Linked DNA regions of Homo sapiens. The protein of the gene in region 1 purifies or fractionates together with the protein of each later gene. This does not show direct contact. Each region holds a gene or a part of one and is shown in the gene's direction. Other genes may lie near its edges.

Evidence for each region.
Region 2: the proteins of OSR1 (region 1) and EGLN1 purify together in Homo sapiens (affinity purification with western blotting, with the first as the bait; 2 studies listed by BioGRID). This does not show direct contact.

What each region holds. Positions count from the first base shown.
Region 1 is NC_000002.12:19,353,119-19,356,275, reverse strand, and holds part of OSR1 (protein odd-skipped-related 1), read left to right. Parts: intron 1-2,438; 5' UTR 2,439-2,470; coding exon 2,471-3,135; intron 3,136-3,157. UniProt on the Homo sapiens protein: Transcription factor that plays a role in the regulation of embryonic heart and urogenital development.
Region 2 is NC_000001.11:231,362,896-231,367,233, reverse strand, and holds the end of EGLN1 (egl nine homolog 1), read left to right. Parts: intron 1-758; coding exon 759-823; 3' UTR 824-3,478; downstream 3,479-4,338. UniProt on the Homo sapiens protein: Cellular oxygen sensor that catalyzes, under normoxic conditions, the post-translational formation of 4-hydroxyproline in hypoxia-inducible factor (HIF) alpha proteins.

The sequences.
Region 1 (3,157 bases):
CTGCAAGCACTCCCCCTTCCCGGCACCCCCTACGGAGCCCAAGACGGCTCCGGTCTTGGCTCTAAGGAAGAAGGCGAGGAAAGGCCTAGCGAGGTTGGTGGTTTCTCCCACCCAGGCACGGAGCGGGTTCGGGACAGTGTGCAGGCCAGAGTCCCACAGCCACGGCCGCTGGCTTGGCCTTGGATAGGCCAAGCACCCAGAGGAGCAGGGGGAGGCCTCCGCGGCGCCCAGCGGGGTCCGGGACCCGGAGATAAGGATCTGATTTCCAGCGCCTGGAAGGGAAGAAGAGGTGACAGCAATTCAAAGAGCGCTCATCCCTCCTAAGTCCAGGCCGACCTTTGAAGTTAGACAGGCTTCTCCTCCTTCCCCTTCCCCAACCCAAATGGGTCTCAGCTTCCTCTCTGGCCCAATTTGAAATTTACTTCTCCTTGTGTCCGAGCTCTGGGATAGTCTCAATTTGTCCCGGGCACGACCCGAGCTTGGCGCAGTAGAGATGACCGTTGCTGAAGCCACGGCGCTGCCAGCGGCACCAGCGCTCTGCTTCAGAGGCCAGATCACGCAGATAATATGCCTCCTCTTGCCCTGAGGCTAAATTCATTGCAACGGTTTTTATCCGAGTGCTAATTTAAACTGCGCAGGCAAATCACGGCCAGCTCGTGGTGTTTTTACACCCCATTCCCAGGAAGGCCTCTTTCCTTAGGTCCCACCACACAGCCAGTGGCCCCCGTGCCAGCTTCCAGGAGAAAAGGTTTTCCTGGGTCAACATTGCCCTCATACCTCCTGGGAAAAGGCACTGCACATCCCTGGACAGAGCCAGGCTTTGAAAGCCTCGCTGCAGCGAAAGGCAGAGGAGTCTATGCCTGGGCCTTGCCCTGGGCTGAGGGTCAGCTCAACCTGGGGAGGGGGCACGCCAAACTAGGGAGCAGAGCAGAGGCCAGTGCATCCCAGGGAAGGGGAATTGCTCCATGTTAGAGGAAAGGACCTAGGAAGAGGAGAGTAATGAAGGGTAAAGGAAGAAGTCAACAGCAGGGGATTGAAGCTAGGCAAGAGAGAAGGGAGTCCCACGGACCCTGCTGTGACAATGACTTCTTAAGTAGCCCCAAGCTAAGAGCCAGGAGTTCAGTGCTTGGGCTTCCCAAGGCTCCCTGACAGTTTAGACTTTGCTCACCCTGTTCTTTCCTCCACTGGACACATCTAAATTAGGAGTGTCTGGGAGGTAGAGATGAAAAGCATTTTGCAGAGCTCAGATGTCTCCACGGAGGCTGGAGACCATGGCCAAGGAGGTCTGGAGATGCCAACCCCTGGTCACTTCAGTGTGGCTTTCCTCTGGCCTTGCTCAAGCTCTCCAACCTTGCACTTGGAGGTACATAGACCACAGGAATGGAGGCCTGGCCTCAGTGTTCTTGCCCATAGGCATACCCACCTGCCCAGGGCTCACAACACACAAGAACATGCTGACAACCCAAAGACTCAGCTCCCTTTTTCTTTGGGGGAGTGAGGGCACTAACACCCCCTTGTTTGTGACTGCAGTTGTTTGACAGAGTAAATGAATGTGGATATTAGCAACCTCCTTGAAAGCAAAGTGGTCCCCGAGGGCTAAGGCAAGGCAGAGAGTCAGTCCACAAGCAGCTGCAGAGAGAGTGGAGCCAACAGGTTTCACTTACACTAAGGCAGGGAAGCAGATTTAAGGTCAAAGTTGAGGGTTTTGAGGAGAAAGATGACAGGGCTTCTGGAAGCCAAATCGAAGGTCAGCCAGAAGACCTTAATGAATGGGAGCCAGGAGGTGCATGCATTTGTGCGCCTGTGTATGTGTGTTGTCTGTGAGGCTCTTCATGGGTGCAATGTGATCCCGTGTGTGTGTGTGTGTGTGTGTGTGTGTGTGTGTGAGATTCAGGGGTTCCTGCATTTTTTTAAAGCCAGTGTTGTACTATAAAACATTGGTTGTCCCAGTCTTTGCACCTTGTCAATTCTGCCTCAGAATGTCTGAATCCACGTGTGCAATTCTGTGTTTATCTGCAAATAAATGTGTAAGTATGTTCCCCAGCTCCTGTTATCTTTGCAGGAGATTGTGATTCTGTGTTGACCCGGGCTTACCTGGATGTCAATTTCTACAGGACAGGCAGTTTCCCTTTGCTTGTTCCTTTCTCAGTGTCTTGCATACAGTAGGCCCTTCCCTCTATCAAGTTGTGTGGCTCTGCCAGACGCCATTTGGAGGGAGCCCTTAGACCAAGGAGGGTTCTGAAAAGAGGGCTCCCCTGCGTCTTACATTCCCACCCTCTTTGTGAGGGCAGTGGGTTTTGGGAATGGGGTCTTAGACTCTTAGCTCCTGCGCTGGGTGTGAGGAGAGGGTGTGGCTCGGCTGGAATTCAGGAGGAAGGCGACCCACCCTGAACTTCTTTATTCCTCTCCACGCCCCTGCCTTCTTCTTTTCTTTGCAGATCCGGATTGAGAAGCCACTGCAACTACCGAAATGGGCAGCAAAACCTTGCCGGCGCCGGTGCCTATCCACCCTTCCCTGCAGCTCACCAACTACTCCTTCCTTCAGGCAGTGAACGGCCTGCCCACAGTGCCTTCGGACCATCTGCCCAACCTGTATGGTTTCAGCGCGTTGCACGCTGTGCACCTGCATCAGTGGACGCTGGGCTACCCGGCCATGCACTTGCCGCGCTCTTCTTTCTCCAAAGTGCCGGGCACGGTGTCCAGCTTGGTGGATGCGCGCTTCCAGCTGCCCGCCTTTCCCTGGTTCCCTCATGTCATTCAACCCAAGCCCGAGATCACCGCTGGAGGCAGCGTTCCAGCGCTCAAGACCAAGCCGCGCTTTGATTTTGCCAACCTGGCCTTGGCAGCAACGCAAGAAGATCCGGCCAAGCTCGGTCGCGGGGAGGGCCCAGGCTCCCCTGCAGGTGGGCTGGGTGCCCTCCTCGACGTGACCAAGCTGTCTCCAGAAAAGAAGCCCACAAGGGGACGTCTGCCTTCCAAGACCAAGAAGGAATTCGTCTGCAAGTTCTGTGGCCGCCACTTCACCAAGTCCTACAACCTACTTATCCATGAGCGGACGCACACCGACGAGCGGCCCTACACCTGTGACATCTGCCACAAAGCCTTCCGGAGGCAAGACCACCTGCGAGACCACAGGTGCGGCACTGCGGGTGGCGCA
Region 2 (4,338 bases), on another chromosome or scaffold:
AAATTAATACCCTTTCCTTTTCAAATGGATGTGCTCTAAACAGTACTCTAGGTCTTCCATGTTAAATGTAGACATGAAGAAAATTAATACAAAGAATTATGAATTCAAATGCCAAAATCAGTAAATGACACAGACATGTAGATTCCATATCTGCTAATGGTGTACATAGGTCAGCACTCTTGTACTGAACCTGAAGATCCTTTAATTATGCCAGTTCCCCTTCTCTTCCACTTATGGACTGCCTCTCCAAGAGCAGGGGGTCTGTTTCCCATCTGATGGACCACTTACCTTCTTTTCTTTAACTCTACTTTCTATCTCCAAAAATCCACTGAGTATTCACATTACTGATTAGCTGTGTTTTCCAGAGCCATTGCTAATCGCACGTCGACCTTACATAAAAATGGAATATTCATGCATTTTCTATGTATTTTTAAAGCCATTATTTGTGGCACAAGCTCAGTGTGCTTTCAGAGACACTGAACACTCTGTTGAAGAAACTCAAATGGCTTTTAAAATAAAAAGACAAAATCATTATCTCTGTGTAGAGGATGGTTTTATCCTTGAAGGTTTACTATTTGAAACCTCATCACAATAGAATGCTGAGGGAAGTTTTTGGAAGTACAAGCGTGATAGTTCTCAGATGATGTTTGCAAAGTTGAAATATTGTCCATACTCTTAGGAATTCAGTGGAATGCAGTAGCAGAAGCTCTCTGGTGCTTAGTGAATGAATGAAAATTTTTTTTTTTTTTACCTTGCAGGTGAAAAAGGTGTGAGGGTTGAACTCAATAAACCTTCAGATTCGGTCGGTAAAGACGTCTTCTAGAGCCTTTGATCCAGCAATACCCCACTTCACCTACAATATTGTTAACTATTTGTTAACTTGTGAATACGAATAAATGGGATAAAGAAAAATAGACAACCAGTTCGCATTTTAATAAGGAAACAGAAACAACTTTTTGTGTTGCATCAAACAGAAGATTTTGACTGCTGTGACTTTGTACTGCATGATCAACTTCAAATCTGTGATTGCTTACAGGAGGAAGATAAGCTACTAATTGAAAATGGTTTTTACATCTGGATATGAAATAAGTGCCCTGTGTAGAATTTTTTTCATTCTTATATTTTGCCAGATCTGTTATCTAGCTGAGTTCATTTCATCTCTCCCTTTTTTATATCAAGTTTGAATTTGGGATAATTTTTCTATATTAGGTACAATTTATCTAAACTGAATTGAGAAAAAATTACAGTATTATTCCTCAAAATAACATCAATCTATTTTTGTAAACCTGTTCATACTATTAAATTTTGCCCTAAAAGACCTCTTAATAATGATTGTTGCCAGTGACTGATGATTAATTTTATTTTACTTAAAATAAGAAAAGGAGCACTTTAATTACAACTGAAAAATCAGATTGTTTTGTAGTCCTTCCTTACACTAATTTGAACTGTTAAAGATTGCTGCTTTTTTTTTGACATTGTCAATAACGAAACCTAATTGTAAAACAGTCACCATTTACTACCAATAACTTTTAGTTAATGTTTTACAAGGAAAAAGACACAAGAAGAGTTTAAATTTTTTTGTTTTGTTTTGTTTTTTTGAGACAGTCTTGCTCTGTTACCCAGGCTGGAGGGGAGTGGTGCATTCTTGGCTCACTGCAACCTCCGCCTCCCAGGTTCAAGCAATCCTCCCACCTCAGCCTCCCAACTAGCTGGGACTGCAGGCACACACCACCATGCCTGACTAATTTTTGTATGTTTAGTAGAGACGGGGTTTTGCCATGTTGCCTAGGCTGGGGTTTAAGTTAAATTTTTTAAAAAACTAAAGTGACTGGCACTAAGTGAACTTGAGATTATCCTCAGCTTCAAGTTCCTAAGATAAGGGCTTTCTTAAGCTTTCAGGTGTATGTATCCTCTAGATGTAGACAATAATGTCCCATTTCTAAGTCTTTTCCTTTTGCTTCTCCTTAAATTGATTGTACTTCCAAATTTGCTGTTATGTTTTTTTCCTAATACTGTGATCTATCTGATCTGCAGACAAGAACCTTGTCTCTGTTGAAGAGCATCAAGGGGAGATTATGTACACATTGAAACTGAAGTGTGGTGTTACTGACGGAATGTGCAGTAACTCCTCAGATATCTGTTAAGGCATTTCCCAGATGTGATGCCAGCCTTCTTACCTGTACTGAAAGATGCTTAGCTTAGAAAAAAACAAAACAGATGCAAAATCAGATAATTTTATTTTGTTTCATGGGTTTTCTTATTTACTTTTTAAACAAGGAAGGAATATTAGAAAATCACACAAGGCCTCACATACATGTTATTTAAAGAATGAATTGGGACGGATGTCTTAGACTTCACTTTCCTAGGCTTTTTAGCAAAACCTAAAGGGTGGTATCCATATTTTGCGTGAATTATGGGTGTAAGACCTTGCCCACTTAGGTTTTCTATCTCTGTCCTTGATCTTCTTTGCCAAAATGTGAGTATACAGAAATTTTCTGTATATTTCAACTTAAGACATTTTTAGCATCTGTATAGTTTGTATTCAATTTGAGACCTTTTCTATGGGAAGCTCAGTAATTTTTATTAAAAGATTGCCATTGCTATTCATGTAAAACATGGAAAAAAATTGTGTAGTGAAGCCAACAGTGGACTTAGGATGGGATTGAATGTTCAGTATAGTGATCTCACTTAGGAGAATTTGCAGGAGAAAGTGATAGTTTATTGTTTTTTCCTCGCCCATATTCAGTTTTGTTCTACTTCCTCCCCTTCCTTCCAGATGATAACATCACATCTCTACAGTAAGTGCCTCTGCCAGCCCAACCCAGGAGCGCAAGTTGTCTTTGCCATCTGGTCTATAGTACAGTGCGCGGCGTTAGGCCACAACTCAAAAGCATTATCTTTTTTAGGGTTAGTAGAAATTGTTTTATGTTGATGGGAGGTTTGTTTGATTGTCAAAATGTACAGCCACAGCCTTTTAATTTGGGAGCCCCTGTTGTCATTCAAATGTGTACCTCTACAGTTGTAAAAAGTATTAGATTCTACTATCTGTGGGTTGTGCTTGCCAGACAGGTCTTAAATTGTATATTTTTTGGAAAAGTTTATATACTCTCTTAGGAATCATTGTGAAAAGATCAAGAAATCAGGATGGCCATTTATTTAATATCCATTCATTTCATGTTAGTGGGACTATTAACTTGTCACCAAGCAGGACTCTATTTCAAACAAAATTTAAAACTGTTTGTGGCCTATATGTGTTTAATCCTGGTTAAAGATAAAGCTTCATAATGCTGTTTTTATTCAACACATTAACCAGCTGTAAAACACAGACCTTTATCAAGAGTAGGCAAAGATTTTCAGGATTCATATACAGATAGACTATAAAGTCATGTAATTTGAAAAGCAGTGTTTCATTATGAAAGAGCTCTCAAGTTGCTTGTAAAGCTAATCTAATTAAAAAGATGTATAAATGTTGTTGAAACATTATGGTGGTTATTTCCAGCTGTCTTTTTTGTTTTTCAATCCTTTATCATACATTGGCTTTCCGAATGATCCCTTTCATCAGATAAAGCTTTTCTGGCTTAGTCTAGGACATTTGTTATAACTTTTTGTAAATGATAATGAAGGAAAGAGAACAGTAAACATAGGAGTTCAACAATTTTAGAAACATCCCTGGGGTCATTGGACTGTCTGTGGGATCCATGAAGTCTGTTTGGATTCTCAGCACTTGAATTCTTGCCCTTTTAGTAGGATTTTTAAAATTATTTTAACATTCATAGCTGTTGACAGATCTGTATCACCCCTCTGCTGCAAAAGGAAGTGGGGTTAGGCATTTATCTCTAATTGTCATAGATGTACCATTGTGTATATGCAAGAAGGTTTAATTTGTGTGGTCATAACTAAAATATGAGAGCTCTTATTAAGGTGAGATCAAAATACCTGTTTATATATCTGTTATTTAAAGAAAAATTTTCCACAGTGTTTTGTTATTTTCCAGCGTTTCTTAGAACATTTGGGAATTACACTAAAATATAGCTGGGTGGATTGAAGTAAAGGGCAAATGAGTTTGAGATGAAGTTTGAGATGTGCTTTTTTATATACAAAAAGCACATCTTCCACCTTAAACAGTTGTATGAGACCTAAATGAAATACAGTGTGCAAAGTACCTTACAATGCATGGAACAAAGTAGGCCTTCAACGAGGATTATTGCCCTTTCCTTTAACAATATGATAGCATAATTGCAGAGAGAGAAAATTGGGGCAATGAGCTTTGAATAGCTAACGGTTTTATCAGTTGTAAATGTGAATCATTTGGAAGCAGGAGTGTTGTCTTATTAATGA